Regions from separate parts of the Homo sapiens genome. Here region 2 is linked to region 1. The links come from fine-mapping of genetic effects on gene expression. Tissue or cell type: whole blood. Region 1 holds a variant in brackets; the other region holds the start of a gene. All regions are shown on one strand. Distances are from middle to middle.

Region 1 (8,109 bases):
CCTGTTTTCATCTTCTATTCCTCCTTCACCATCTGTTGGAATATCAATAATATTGAATCAGAAAAAGAAGAACATACTCTTAAAACTATTTATTTGGAAATAACAAACACAAGGTATCTTATTTCTAGGTCATTGTTTCTACATCAAAGAGCCCTGTGCAAATGGATAATTAAAATGTAAAGATTGATGAGGATTTACTACCAACATTAATCTAATTATTTCTGTCCCTATGGAATCCACTGCACAATTGTAAAGAGAATAATCAGATTCTCAAAAATGGCAAGACCCAATCATGCCAATGAGATGATTTTAAAAGTTTATGCTTAATTTGCATGAATAATACATACTGAAATAGCTTAGGTCATGCTGGCTCAGTATGACAAACTCCACTGACAATTTTGTATATAATACCGGTATGATTATAGTGTAATATGGATGCTTAAAATAATAATAAATGACAATCATAAGATGAGTTAAAATTTTTGTGTTTTAAGAAAAAAAAATTCTAAAAGTGAGAAGATAGTTTTGGTCTATAGTCACATACTAAGCACAAGCTTCAGATTTGTGCTTGTCTTCACGACAACTAGTCACCAGCACAATAAAACAAATACTAATACTCACCTGAGTATGGTTTCACTGGCATGTCATCCAGTAAGAGGTGTAGGAGCCTCTGGGTATGTGACCGCTGACGATTCAGAGAGGTTACCCTTAGCTCTATTGAGGCAGTTTTCATAAGCCATGACATCTGGTTCAGCATAGATATTTCATATTCTAGAATTTAAACATGTAAATTTTGTTTCCCAGAGTAATAACACAGTATCAAAACAGACTTAAATTCTGTAACTCAACAGATATTTTCCCATGTAACAAAGTCAATAATTTATGAAACTCAGCAACATAATAATTTCTCACTCTGTAAAATTACAAGAGGAAAAAAAAGATACCAAGAAAGAAAAAAATAAGCTAGTATAAATTTACGAAAGATGGGCTAAAGTAAATGAAGAGTAAAAGAGAATCAAGTTTTCATTACTGATTTTAATTTCACAAAGATCCTGAATCTATCGTATTTTGACACTGATATATAAAACAATATTTTAAAGTAATTTTCAAATACATAACTCAAAAAACTATCATAGTTTGGTTTTGATTTCACAAAACAAATACATAAGAAAAATTAAACTTAAATTGCATGATTTTATAATACCTCAATTAATGATGTGGTTTAACATTTAATTAAGGCTGAGAATCACTTATACAATAGTTTTTATTTTTATTTATTTATTTTTTATTGTAGAGACAGGGTCTCACTCTATTGCCCAGGCTGTACTTGAACTCCTTGCCTCAGTGTTCCTCCTGTCTCAGCCTACCTAAGCACTGGGATTATAGGCGCGAGCCACTGTGCCTGGTCCTACAATAAGATTTTTTTAATCCAATACTATTTTAATATGCTTGACATTGAAACCCTAAACTGTGACAGTATAAACATAAAATTAACCATATAACAATACTAATAATAATTTCAGGCAAAGCTAAATGAAGTTTTATAAAACACATACCATAATAGGTAAGATGTTAATTTTTATTTTTAATTAGGTGTAAAGAGGGTTTCTAAAAGCTTCTTAAACAAAATCCCAGAACTAAAAATAAGACACTTATGAAAATAGAGTGAAAAACCTTTTGCCATTAGATAATTCTCAGAGGTCTAACGCCATTACTCTAAAAGGTAAATTAGATGCTGACAATTACTAGTAATAGAAATTTGTTTATGGCATGTGTGAGCCTCAACTTCCTAAAACATAAAGATGACACAAGCTAAACTTTTAAAAAACTCAACAGACTAAGACTGTCTGAATATAGTCTGAATTCAGAAAACTGTTAAAAGTTGGTCAAAAAGAAAATAAAGTAGAATCTCGATAAGACTGCATTAGCCTGGAATAATTGTTAGCCATGTCAATAAACTAAGTTAAAACTGTTTTCTACCATAATTAGTTTTCAACTTTTCATTTCAAGATCTGAATTGGTTTCAATACAAACACAAGAAACAAAAATAAACCAGGATTTTTTTTTTCCTCATAAACAGCCTGGGAAGAGAAAATCAGAAATCTTCGTAAAACAATTTTCATTCAAAAACTTTAAATTCCCATTAATTTTCTAATCCCTTCAACACAATCTTTAAATTTTATTTGTTGTAAGAGAATCAAATTCCATCCTTGATAGGCTATATTTAAATAAGTTTTTGCTAGCAGTTAAAATATCAGCCTTCTTTAAGCAGAAATTACAAAAAGAACCCAAAATAACAAAGAAGCCAAAGTATCAGAATGAGAACAGAATTCCCCCAAATATTGTATAAATAAAATCACTTAACATGGAATTATAAATGTGTTCTTATAAATACGGGAAAATAATGGCCTACCTTTGTTAGAAAATGGTAGATACTGCAACTGGGAAAATAAGAAATCCTGGCTGGTTCTCAAGTACCTCATAGTAGGACCAGATGTATCAGAGCATGCACATAACTGATATATGACCTAAAGCATTAAAGTAAGAAAAATCCCTGAATCAGTCTTTCTGTGTTACACATATTATGGTAACAAAATATGAACTTAGACCTACTAAGTGAAAAACTAGGACCCATCAACAACTCAAGTAAAATGGACAAACAGATGCACAAAACATAAGCTCAGAGTTATGAACAGTCCTTGGCAACCTAGCTCAAGAAAATACACTGAAATACAATGGAGTGCTGGTGACATTATTACACAACTATTATTAATATACTTATTAATATATACACATATAGTTAATTTTACTATACACATATAGTACATTTTAGTATTTTAGCTTAATTATTAGTAGCAGGCCGGGCACGGTGGCTCACCTCCCAACACTTTGGGAGGCTGAGGTGGGCAGATTACTTGAGGTCAGGAGTTTGAGACCAGTCTGCTCAACATGGTGAAACTCTGTCTCTATAAAAATACAAAAATTAGCCAGGCATGGTAGCGTGTGCCTGTAATCCCAACTACTCGGAAGGCTGAGGCAGATTAATCACTTAAACCCTGGAGGTGGAGGTTGCAGTGAGCCAAGATCATGACACTGCACTCCAGCCTGGTGACAGGGCAAGACCCTGTCTCAAAAAAAAAAGAAAAAAAAAGAAAAGAAAAAAATTATTAGTAGCAAATTACTTGGAAATAACTTCTGAGAACCATAAGAGTTACATCTCAACCTCTGGAAGATTAAAATTACCAAAACTAAAGCAAATGCAGAAATTACAAAGAAGATCCATAAATTCAACTAAATAACAATAAACTGAATAAAAATTTAACAAAAAAGAATAGATAAGAGAAAAAGTTCTTATATTAAATATAAGAAAAAGTTGCTAGCTCTAATATATATAAAGATCTCCATTACAGATATGAATAACATAAAGATCTAAGTACCCCAGATGGTAAAAGTAGCCCATATGGTAAAAGACATTTTATATGAGAAAAATAAAAATAGCCCATAATAAAAAATGTCCATCTGTTTTCAGGAATTAAAAAAAAAAATCAAGATGATAATAGGTAGGTATCATATTATAAATCAGCAAATTTTTTTTTTTTTTGAGTCAGGGTCTCACTCTGTCACCCAGGTTGGAGTACAGTGGTGCAATCACAGCTCACTGCAGCCTCAACCTCCTGGGCTAAAGTGATCCTCCCAGCTCAGCCTTCTGAGTAGCTGGGACTACAGTAATTGCATGCCACCATG[C/T]GTGGCTAATATGAACATTTATTAGATGCTTTCCATGTACCAGGCACTTTAAGACATGTTTATTCTGAGCACTATTAATACCTAGTATAATTGTTATGACTACTTGTGAATTAAAATCTAAAGCCAAAACTCTTGATAGTCTTTGACCCAACACAGTCAATCCTCATTATTTACAGATTCCATATTTGCAAATTCACCTAACATGCTAAAATTTATTTAAAATCCCAAAATCAATACTTGCAGTGCTTCCATGGTCCTTCATGCGCGGGAGAACAGCTACAAACTGCAGTCACCGAACTCTCATGCTCTCTAATGGAGCAATGCTTTTCCTGTTCCAGCTATCATACTATAAAAAGGGTTCTTTAAATGGTCTATTTAGTGCCACGTTTTTTGCATTTTTGTGCTTTTTGTTGATTTTGCTGTTTAAAACAGCCCCCAAGCATAGTGCTGAAATGCTGCCTTGTCCCTAAGTGCAAAAAGGCTGTGATATGCCTTTAAGATAAAATACTACATTAGATAAATTTCATTCAGGCTGAGTTATAGTGCTGTTGGCTATGAGTTTAATGTTAATGAATCAACTACATTAAGTAAGGTGTCTTTAAACAGAAACACACATAAAACATGATTATGAATTCATCAGTTGACAAGAATGTTGGAACCAGACACTTGCAGGAATCCTAGCCTGTATTTTCCATAGGGGCAATGAATTCACCAATTCAGTTTTCACAATGACTTTATAAAACACAACTACTGTGAATAACGAGAACTGACTATAAACCCTTGTCTGGAAATATATTCTGTTTTTTTTTCTTCTGTTTTTTTTGAGATGCAGTTTCATTCTGTCGCTCAGGCTGGAGTGCAGTGGCGCGATCTCGGCTCACTGCAAGCTCCACGTCCCGGGTTCATGCCATTCTCCCGCCTCAGCCTCCTGAGTAGCTGGGACTACAGGTGCCCACCACCATACCCGGCTAATATTTTGTTTTTGTATTTTTAGTAGAGACGGGGTTTCACCGTGTTAGCCAGGATGGTCTTGATCTCCTGACCTCATGATCCACCCGCCTCAGCCTCCCAAAGTGCTGGGATTACAGGTGTGACCCACAGTGCCCGCCTGGAAATATATTCTTAAGAAAAATACAAAACAACCAAAGGTAATTTATTTATTTACAACTGCCACCTCCCAGGTTCAAGCGATTCTCCTGCCTCAGCCTCCCAAGTACCTGGGATTAACAGGCACATGGCATAACGCCTGGCTAATTTTTGTTTTTTTGTTCGCTACAGCAGAGTAAAAAAAAAACTGGAAACAACCTGAATGTAATTTACATTGTTGCAGCACAGAAAGTTTATACAGAGAGGAGTAAAAAAGACACAAAATTTCATGTATACTGAATACAACTATAAACAATGTATATACACAAAGAGAAAGAAGACAAGGAAAAGAGTAAAAAGCTCTGCTACAGATGTACATTGACCTTTTAAACAGTTTTGATACCATTTTGATATTCTATAAACAAACAAAAACTTAAGCTAATACCGAACTTCTCAAAACAAAATCAGTTAGGTCTATTACTGGGGGAGTTAAGAAAACACAAGAAGATACTCTAACAAGTGGAAGAAATAATACTATCAGAAGAGAACTGCCAGGCAGTGACTCACGCATGTAATCCCAGCACTTTGGGAGGCCAAGGTGGACGGATCACCTGAGGTCAGGAGTTTGAGACCACCCTGGCCAACATGGTGAAACCCCGTCTCCACTAAAAATACAAAAATTATCCAGGCGTGGTGGCCCAGGGACGCCTGTAATCCCAGCTACTTGGGAGACTGAGGCACGAGAATTGCTTGAACCTGGGAGATGGAGGTTGCAGTGAGCCGAGACCACACCACTGCACTCCAGGCAAGGCGACAGAGCAAGACTCTGTCCCCCACCCAAAAAAAAAAAAAAAAGAAGAGAAGGACACAAAAAGTGAGTTCAAAAAGCACTGAAAGCCATTTTATTAAGATGTGGGCTATATCCTTCCTGGTTTCCAAGACCAGGGACCAGGTAGAAGAAATCTCCGTTCTTAAAGAAAAGAGGGCAAAGGCACCAGGCCTCAACTTCTTCACCCAGAAGCCCTTGTGTTGCAGGACAAGGAAGGTATCAGTAAGGACCATTTCCCTTTGCTACAATCAGATTTATTTAAACTAACAAGCTCTTCTTACTTAGAGGTTTAAATTTTTTTCTGAAGCAGGGTGAAGTACAAACATATAGGTATAGGGAGTATATTTAGTTATAAATGGAGCAGTGCTTTCTGTAAAAATGCAGATCCTGACTCATCAGGTCTAAAGTGGGGCCTCAGATTCTGCACTAATAAGCTCCTAGGAGATAATGCTGATGATACTGGTCCCTGGGCCATATTTGAGTAGCAAGGTCACAGAGCATATGTTATGGCCGGGCACGGTGGCTCACGCCTGTAATCTCAGCACTTTGGGAGGCCAAGGCGGGTGGATCACCTAAGGTCAGGAGTTTGAGACCAGCCTGGACAACATGGTGAAGCCCCCTCTCTACTAAAAATACAAAATTAGCCGGGTGTGATGGCACATGCCTGTAATCCCTGCTACTTGGGAGGCTGAGGCAGGAGAATCGCTTGAACCCGGGAGGTGGAGGTTGCGGTGAGCTGAGATCGTGCCACTGCACTCCACCTGGGCAATAGAGTGAGACTCCATCTCAAAAAACAGTAACAACGACAACAGAGAGTATGTTATAAACTGGTAAACTGCTGGTATGGACATGTTTTCCTTGGCTAGTAGAGTGTTCTAAAAGTTAGAACAACTTTAACAAAAATTCAGATTTCCAAATTCTTTTAAAAATGAATAAATAAAAATAAAAATTCAGACAATCTGGCCCAACAAATCCTGCACTCTGGCATGGTAAAATAAGCCAGGGATGAGTAGGAAGGCACATGCTCTCCAGTCTGCCAGATTCTCCTTTCCTCCCACTCCCTTAACTGGACCCTGGCTTCATTCATTTACTTCACCTGCCATTAGCCTAGGTGTTAAGCTTATCAGTTGTTTCTACTTATATATCAAATTCTGTAAATCTGTGCTAATATGTACATCAAATTTGTTCCCCCATAAGGAAGAATTAATTTTGATTTACAGGAAAACCTAGCTATAGTACTTACAGTGAAGGGATGTTTGGACAGCCGGAGGACAGAAAAGATAGTAAAGAATTACAAAAAGAAAAGCAGGAGATTAACAAAGAAAAATATCCATGCCAGTAACACTAAGAGGTTAGTGATGCATTTCTTTTTTTTTTTTTGAGATGGGGTCTCGCTCTGTTGCCCAGGCTGGAGTGCAGTGGTGCGATCTCGGCTCACTGCAAGCTCCGCCTCCCAAGTTCACGCCATTCTCCTGCCTCAGCTTCCCAAGTAGCTGGGACTACAGGCACACACCACCATGCCCGGATAATTTTTGTATTTTTTTTTTTCTGGGACAGAGTTTCGCTCTGTCGCCTAGGCTGGAGTGCAGTGGCGCGATCTCGGCTCACTGCAAGCTCCACCTCCCGGGTTCACGCCATTCTCCTGCCTCAGCCTCCCGAGTAGCTGGGACCACAGGTGCCAGCCACCATGCCCGGCTAATTTTTTGTATTTTTAGTAGAGATGGGGTTTCATTGTGTTAGTCAGGATGAATTTTTGTATTTTTAGTAGAGATGGGGTTTCACCATGTTCACCAGGATGGTCTTGATCTCCTGATCTCATGACCCACCATTTCTTATCCTAAAAATGTAAATTTAGGGTAACACTTAAATTGAGAAATTAGTCACAGCTTATAAAGCCTGGTTCTTTTTTTTTTTTTTTTTTTTGAGACGGAGTTTTGCTCTTGTTGCCCAGGCTGGAGTACAGTGGCACGATCTAGGTTCACTGCAACCTCTGCCTCCCGGGTAGAAGCAATTCTCCTGCCTCAGCCTCCTGAGGAGCTAGGATTACAGGCGTCCACAACCAGGCCCAGCTAATTTTTTTTGTATTTTTAGTAGAGATGGGGTTCCACCATGTTGGCCAGGCTGGTCTCTAACTCCTAACCTCAGGTGATCTGCTCACCTTAGCCTCCCAAAGTGCTGGGATTAAAGGCGTGAGTCACTGCACGCGGCCAAGCCTAGTTTTTAAAACACTTATAAAATGAATAAAACAATAAACAAAAGTGAACAAGCGAAATTATAAATTATCATTATAGTTTACTTATGTATTTATTTTTATTTTTTTTGAGACAGAGTCTCACTTTGCCACCCAGCTGGAGTGCAGTGGCATGATCTTGGCTCACTGCAACCTCTACCTCCTGGGTTCAAGCAATTCTCATGCCCCAGCCTCCCAAGTAGCTGGGATTACAGGCACG
Region 2 (8,109 bases), 54 kb after region 1:
ACCCCATCTCTACTAAAATTACAAAAATTAGCCAGGTGTGGTGGTGGGCGCCTGTAATCCCAGCTACTTAGGGAGGCTAAGGCAGGAGAATCTCTTGAACCTGGGAGGCAGAGGTTGTAGTGAGCTGAGATCACACCACCGCACTCCAGTCTGGGCGACAGAATGAGCCCCTGTCTCAAAATAAAAAATAATTTTTTAAAAAGGAACTTTCTGAACTACAAGAAACAGAAGTTAACCCTATTGAGAGCTGTTTACAAGGATGGAAGAGACCAGAATGGGTGAAGGAATAGGAGGTATGAAAAGGGAGTCAGTAGGCTGGGCATAGCAGTTCAGGCCTGTAATCCCAGCTACTAGGCTGAGGCAGGAGAATCATTTAAACTTGGGAGGTGGAGACTGCAGTGAGCCGAGACTGCACCACTGCACTCCAGCCTGGGCAGAGTGAGGGAGGGAGGGAAGGAAGGAAGGAAGGAAGGAGGGAAGGAAGGAAGGAACAAAGGAAGGAAGGAGATGGAGTCCATGAATACTAACAAATCTTTTGAAAGGCTTGACTAGGAAGAGGACAGTAAGTGGAGTGACGCATGAGATCATCAGTGGAGAGAAAGGGAAGAGCAAGAGAGAGAAGTGAATATACAAGACAAAAAAAGGGGTAACAGGTGAAGAACACAATGGGTGGGATTTACATTAGATAGGAAGACAGAGGAAAAGTGATTCAAAAGAATGCAGACACACCTAGGTTTGTAGGTTTGAGAGTGAATAAAGGGAGTTCATGTATGTTGGCTCCTATTTTCTCTGTGACTAGAAGTCTGAGGGTTTAGTTAGTTGCAGGTTAAAGATTTGAAGAGTGTAGAAAGGTCTGAAGTAGTCACTGCTGTGAATGGACGAGGTGACCAGACTATCACAGAAGGACTGCCAAGCAGTGTTAATAGTTGCTTATTCACAAGTCTGTGAGTGTACTCAGCCAGGTTGATACAGGTCACAAGACTAGTTAAGTTATACAGCTGAAATACAAGCATAGGTTTTTTTGTTTGTTTTTTGTTTGTTTGTTTTTAAGACAGAGTCTCGCTCTGTTGCCTAGGCTGGAGTGCAGTGGTATGATCTCGGCTCACTGCAACCTCCTCCTCCTGGGTTCAAGCAATTCTCCTGCCTCAGCCTCCCGAGTAGCTGGGATTACAGACACCTGCCATCATGCCAGGCTAATTTTTGTATTTTTGTAGAGACAGGGTTTCACCATGTTGGCCAGGCTGGTCTCGAACTCCTGACTTCAGGTGATCTGCCCACTTCAGCCTCCCAAAGTGCTGGGATTACAGGCATAAGCCACCACACCTGGCCAACCATAGGTCTTAGAACTCTACAATCTCTGTATTTTTTCCTTACAACTCCAAGATGTTTGATTTTTTAAAACTGTAATTTAAAGGAAGCACATAACATAGAATGCAATCTCAACAAATTTTAAGTGTACAGTTCAGCAGTGTTCAGTGTATTCACATTGTGCAACAGATCTTCACAGCTTTTTTCATCTTGCAAAACAGAAACTCTATGCCCCCTAAACAACTCCCCACTTTCCCCTTTCCCAGCCCCTGGCAACCACCATTCTACTTTCTGTTTCTATGAGTATGACTACTTCAGATACCTCATATAAGTGGAATCATGTAGTATTTGTGTCTTGTGACTGGCTTATTTCACTTAGTATGTCCTCAAGTTTCATCCACGTTGTTTTATGTGACAGGATTTCCTTCCTTTTTAAGGCTGCATAAGGATACTATATATATGCATGTATACGTTATGTTATGTATATGCATGTATATGTATTATGCATATTGCATGTATATGACACATTTCCTTTACCCACTCAACCCAACATTCATTCCTTGATGGAAAAAGAGTTCCTTCCCTAAGACGTTTAGTTTTTTAAAAAACCAGCTCCTGACTCTTGGCTTTTAAAAATGTTTCCTATGTTGCCAATTAAACACTCCTGACACAAGGCTTTATTATACAATGTACACTCTTTGCTGCTGTTGGCAACTCCTTTTCCCTCCAATGATTTGTTTAATAATTATAATAGCTTAGGGCGAGTATGTACTAAAGGAATGTATATAGGCCAGGCACAGTGGCTCACGCCTGTAATCCCAGCACTTTGGGATGCCGAGGTAGGCGGATCACCTGAGGTCAGGAGTTTGAGACCAGTCTGGCCAACATGGTGAAACCCCGTCTCTACTAAAAATACAAAAAAAATTGGCCAGGCGCAGTGGCTCACACCTGTAATCCCAGCACTTTGGGAGGCTGAAGGGAGTGAATCACGGGGTCAGGAGCTCGAGACCAGCCTGGCCAATATGGTGAAACCCCTTCTCTACTACAAATACAAAAAATTAGCTGGGTGTAGTGGCGGGCGCCTGTAATCCCAGCCCCTCGGGAGGCTGAGGCAGGGGAATCGCTTGAACCCAGGAGGCGGACGTTGCAGTGAGCCAAGATCGTGCCACTGCACTCCAGCCCGGGCAACAGAGTGAGACTCCATCTCAAAAAAAAATTAGCCAGGCTAGCCAAGCATGGTGGCGGGCGCCTGTAATCCCAGTTACTTCAGAGGCTGAGGCAGGAGAGTTGCTCCAACCCAGGAGGTGGAGGCTGCAGTGAGCCGAGATCACGCCACTGCACTCCAGCCTGGGTGGACAGGATGAGACTCCATCTCAAAAAAAGAAAAAAAAAAAAAAGGAAAATAAATGTGTATACCTTGCGTACTGGCTCACACCTGTAAACCTACCACTTTGGGAGGCCGAGGCAGAAAGATCGCTTGAGGACAGCAGTTCGAGATCAGCCTAGCCAACATGGAGAAACCCCACCTCTACTAAAAATACAAAAATTAGCCCAGCGTGGTGGCACATGCCTGTAATCCCAGCTACTCAGGAGGCTGAGGCAGGAGAATTGCTTCAACCTGGGAGGCAGAGGTTGCAGCGAGCCAGGATCGCGGATCGCATCACTGCACTCCCGCCTGGGAGACAGAGCAAGACTCCATCTCAAAAAGAAAAATTAAAAAATAAAATAAAATAGAGAAATGTATTATATACAACCACACGTTAAGCATATCTAATTGGGAAGGAAGGACCGCAATATTAAGCATGTAACTTCATTACTAACCTTCTAATATATACGTCTAATATCATAAAATGAATTAGGTTGTGCTTAAGCAGTAGCACTAAGTAGTTTAAGCACCTAAGACTGACTTAGATCATTAGATGTTTAACTCTGGGGACATTACGTAACTATTTGAAGCCTCTATTTCCAAATCTGTAAAACGGAGTATGTAACAGTAACTACTCCAAAGGTGTATAAACGGGAACTGAATGAGATAAGCACGATAATAAGTGCAATGCTGGGATATAGTATGTGTTCAGTAAACATAGCCTTCATTATAATTTATCATAGCTTTTCTGAAATGATTTGATTTACAAAACAGATTTAGACAACTTTTCAAGAATATCAGTCCTGTGGAAAATAGAACCAATACTTTAAAAAAGAGTCCTTTTAAGTGAGATTCTCACAAGCATTTACCACACAGATATACTCTTAATCTTGCCCGCGAACTTCAGAGCATCTCAATCGAGGCATTAACATTCTAGGCACCAAATTATTTTTCCGGACTGCTCTGACCATGAAGGACTTTCTGCATCCTTGCCCCGCCTACTATGCGACAGCAGTGTACCCCAGGAAATATGACAATCAAAATGCACTCACTCATTCAAACACCACTGGAGGGCGGTACGGCCCGAATTGAGAATCACCGAAAGAGGATCCACCCCAAATCTTCCAGAGTTCCTTTACTACCTTCTAGATTCAATTCCACCCCGAAAATCTACAGCTCCAAAGGTACAAGAACATCCAGGGCCTAACCACATCCGCAGGGTTAGAAGACGTCTGCTGAAGCCCCGCCACCCTCTTCCTGACCACCTTTCAGATGGCCGACTTCATAATAGGGAGTATTCGCTGCCTGCAAGATCTCCCACCCTATAAGGAACTCCGACGCCTACTTTCAGCCTCTGCTCATGGCTGGAAAATATCTCGGGTCCTCTGGCTTCACTGTGGAAGACCTGATGCGTATTCCAGCGAAATCGGGACCACAGACGCACAGTGAAACTTGGGGGTGAGGGGGACCAGACTCAGCCCTGGGCTGTGAGAGATTACACACCTGGGTCCAGCGGCCCAAGCCTCACTGCCTGGAATCTCAAACCCCAACTCGAGGGCTGGAGCCGCAGCACCGACGCGCGCCATTCAAACTGGGGAGGGGTGGGACTCTAGGCCCAGAATTAGGGAAAAGCAGGCACCGCACATAAGTGGGGTCCTAGACTCCGAGAAACCTCACGGTCTCGTCTCTCCATGAAGACCTGGTTATCGCTCAGCTCAATCGTCTTTCTGTCTGGCCACACTTACCCGAATTTACCGCCAAAGGCGTCGCCATCTTAGAGGCGCACTAACAGAGCCCTTCTGCCGCATGGAGGCCCCGGGAAAGGGTGAGGCTGACCTGAGCGAAGCCTGAACAAAAAGGCACCACACTGTCCCCTCCACGCTGGGCCGTCCCAGGCGTACAAAAGGCTCCAGAATCTGCTCTGGGTCACAAACATCAATTTTCATTGGGATTATTCCCATTCAAATAAGGCGAGGGCAACCACTTCAGAGACACGAGGTCCTCGATCCGACGTTCATCGTGTAGTGCATCCTGGGACTTGTAGTTTCTAATGATGAGTTGGTTAAGTGGAGAGGAAAAAGTAAAGTGGAATAGAAAAAGATATTCTGAGAGTAGTTATTAAAATGACGCCCATTTATGACATTATAAAAGCCGTAAATTCAAATCATTATCTCCGCTTCAAGTTAAATCTTCCTTACAGTGGGGAGTGAAGTAAGGTATGAAGTGTCTACACCTCAAAAAGCCACTGACCGGTTACAAACTAAGTTTCCGTGACATTTCAGTTTACCAAATATATTCTGTCAACATAGTTGCGTAGAGCGAAACAAATCATAATTTTTAATTATAAAATTTTCAAACGGATACAAAATTAGAATAGCAAACACTCAGCATCAATAACGTGGCCAATTTCCCACCACGGCAGCCCCAACCCACCCTTACCACCCCAACACCCTCCCCTCCCCACCCCCCGCCCCCGATTAGTTTGAAACAGATTCCAGACATATCGTTTCATAATCACCAAGTATTTTTCTACCTGAGCACCCAAAGTAGCTGAACTCTTTCTTCAGCTGTTAAATTTTAGTTTGCTGATTTTCAAACTAAAATGTAAATAATCATTGCTATTTACAGCTATGTATTAAGAAAAATTTTATAGCCATTATCTCATTTAATCCCTGCAAACCATTCTATTGGGAAAATGATATGATTATAACTATTTATGTCAGAGACGCTCCATGTGCCTTACAATCTCATTGTATTAACTCTCCATCATTCCCATTTCACTGTTGGAAATCAGAATCAAATAATTTAGACAAAAGCATAGAGTATGTTAAGAATATCCAGAACTGGCAGGGCGCAGTGGCTTATGCCTGTAATCCCAGCACTTTGGGAGGCCAAGGCAGGCGATCACTTAAGGTCAAGTGTTTGAGACCAGCCTGGCCAGGAAGGTGAAACCCCGTCTCTACTAAAAATACAAAAATTAGCCAGGCATGGCGGCACGCACCTGTAACCCCAGCTGTTCGGAAGGCTGAGGCAGGAGAATCCCTTGAACCCGGGAGGTGGAGGTTGCAGTGAGCTGAGATCATACCACTGCACTCCAGCCTAGGCAACAGAGTGAGTGAGACTCCATTTAAAAAAAAAAAGAATATCCAGAACAGAACATTTATTCTTTTGAACAAATAATATCAAGTGACACAATGTACATTAGGTTTGAAACACAAAAATCACTGGTGATTTTTTCTAAAAGTCATTGATATATAGAGACAAATGCCAAACTACGATTAAAGTGGTTTTAAGGAGTGAAGTGGGGAAGAGAGAAAGTAAACGCAAAGGAATTTTTCAAGAAGTTTATCATGAAACTGAGAAGAATACTGAGCAGGAACTTGACAGGAAGCGGCATTCAAAGATTTCTCTCTCAGCACAGCTATTACAAGCCTTTCCCTCTCCACATGCACTTTTTAAGCCCACACGCTTCCCTCTCAGTAGATAACTTTGCTTTCTATAAAGTAACTCTTTAAATTCCAGCAACTCCTCTTCACCTGTCATTACACTTTACAAGCATTCTCTCACAGGCTTCTTCAATTCGTAGCAATTGGGATATTGCCATCATAAGCCCCTCTAAAACTGCGCTTGGTATGTTTACCAGTTATCAGTCATCAAATTCCATGGGCACTTTTCTGAATTATGATAGTTATAGGCCGGGTGCAGTGGCGCACGCCGGTAATCCTAGCACTATGGGACGCTGAGGTGGGAGAATCACCTGAGGTCAAGAGTTCGAGACCAGCCTGGCCAACATGGTGAAACCTTGTCTCTACTAAAAATACAAAATTAGCTGGGCGTGGTGACAGGACTCCTGTAATCCCAGCTACTTGGGAGACTAAGGCAGGAGAATCGCTTGAACCCCAGAGGCAGAGGTTGCAGTGAGCCGAGATCGCACCATTGCACTCCAGCCTGGGTAACAGAGTAAAAACTCTGCCTCAAAAAAAAAAAAAGAAAAAGAAAAGAAAAAGAAAGAAACAAAATTATATTATCCTGTGGCTACTGGGGCACCAATGATACTGGTTTTCCTCCTCTTTCCAGTTCTTTTTTAGTGTTTTACGTGGACTTCTCTTCCTCTTCTACCCACTAAATCTAGCTCTTCCCCTATAGTCATCTCTAGTTTCTGTCCTTTTCATTCTACATGCTTTCTGTGGGACATCTTATGGTTTCTTACTACCACCTGCTTGCTGATGAATTCTGTGTTTGTATCTCTAGTCCAGTCCTCTCTCTTGAGCTTCATATTTGTAGAACCAACTCTCTACTTCATATCTGTATTGATTGCCACACAGGCGTTTCAAAACCAACATGTCTGAAACGTAAATGATCACTTTTCCCCTAAAACTCTGCCACCTGTATCCCCACCCAGTTGCCAAAATCGGAAACCTGGGATTCTTTCTGTATTCTTCCTTCAATTGTCAAATCCTGTTCATTCTACCTCACAAATATTTCTGGAACCCTTTTCCTCTTCTCTGCTTTCTATGCCATTGTTCAAGTCTCATCTTCTTAAACTTGGTATTTTGCAATAGCCTTCTCATTTGTCTTTCTTATTTCCATCTGATCTTCCTTTCATGGACTCCTAAGGTGATTTTTATTTTTTATTTTATTTTATTAATTTATTTCAAGACACAGTTTCACTCTGTCGCTGGAGTGCAGTGGTGCAATCTTGGCTCACTGCAGCCTCCACCTCCCGGGTTCAAGCGATTCTTGTGCCTCAGCCTCCTGAGTAGCTGGGATTACAGGGGCATTTCACCACACCCGGCTAATTTTTGTATTTTTAGTACATGGCGGGGGGCGGGGGTTTGCCATGTTAGCCAGGCTGGTCTCGAACTCTTAACCTCGGCTTCCCAAAACACTGAAATTACAGGCATGAGTCACTGTGCCCAGCCTGAAAGTGATTTTTAAATACAAAAAAACATGACCGGACACGGTGGCTCACGCCTGTAATCCTAGCACTTTGGGAGGCCAAGACAGGCAGATCACCTGAGGTCAGGAGTTCGAGACCAGCCTGACCAACATGGAGAAACCCCGTCTCTACTAAAAATACAAAATTAGCTGGGCGTGGTGGCACATGCCTATAATGCCAGCTACTCAGGAGGCTGAGGCAGGAGAATTGCTTGAACCCGGGAGGCAGAGGTTGCGGTGAGCCAAGATCACGCCATTGCACTCCACCCTGGGCAAGAAGAGTGAAACTCTGTCTCAAAAAAAAGGAAAAAAAAATATGGCCAGGCGCAGTGCCTCACACCTGTAATCCCAGCACTTTGGGAGGCCGAGGCGGGCAGATCACGAGGTCAGGAGATTGAGACCATCCTGGCTAACACGGTGAAACCCCATCTCTACTAAAAATACAAAAAATTAGCCAGGTATGGTAGAGGGCACCTGTAGTCCCAGCTACTCAGGAG

Evidence for each region. PIP is the estimated chance that this variant, and not a neighbour inherited with it, causes the effect.
Region 2: it holds the start of NUP205, and the variant in region 1 is fine-mapped to the expression of NUP205 in whole blood (INTERVAL, PIP above 0.99).

Annotation. Positions count from the first base shown.
Region 1 is chr7:135,608,578-135,616,686 of GRCh38, reverse strand. NUP205 (nucleoporin 205) reads right to left here. Exons shown (of 43, transcript NM_015135.3): 23 at 2,414-2,528; 24 at 622-771; 25 at 1-32. Among named protein-coding and RNA genes, the nearest start is that of STMP1, 50 kb to the left of the region's middle. The variant C/T (reference allele first, on the strand shown) is at 3,745.
Region 2 is chr7:135,554,283-135,562,391 of GRCh38, reverse strand. It overlaps NUP205 (nucleoporin 205), which reads right to left and starts at 4,475. Exons shown (of 43, transcript NM_015135.3): 1 at 4,420-4,475. The coding sequence starts at 4,447. RefSeq lists enhancers at 3,765-3,884, 3,955-4,014, 4,075-4,124, 4,505-4,634.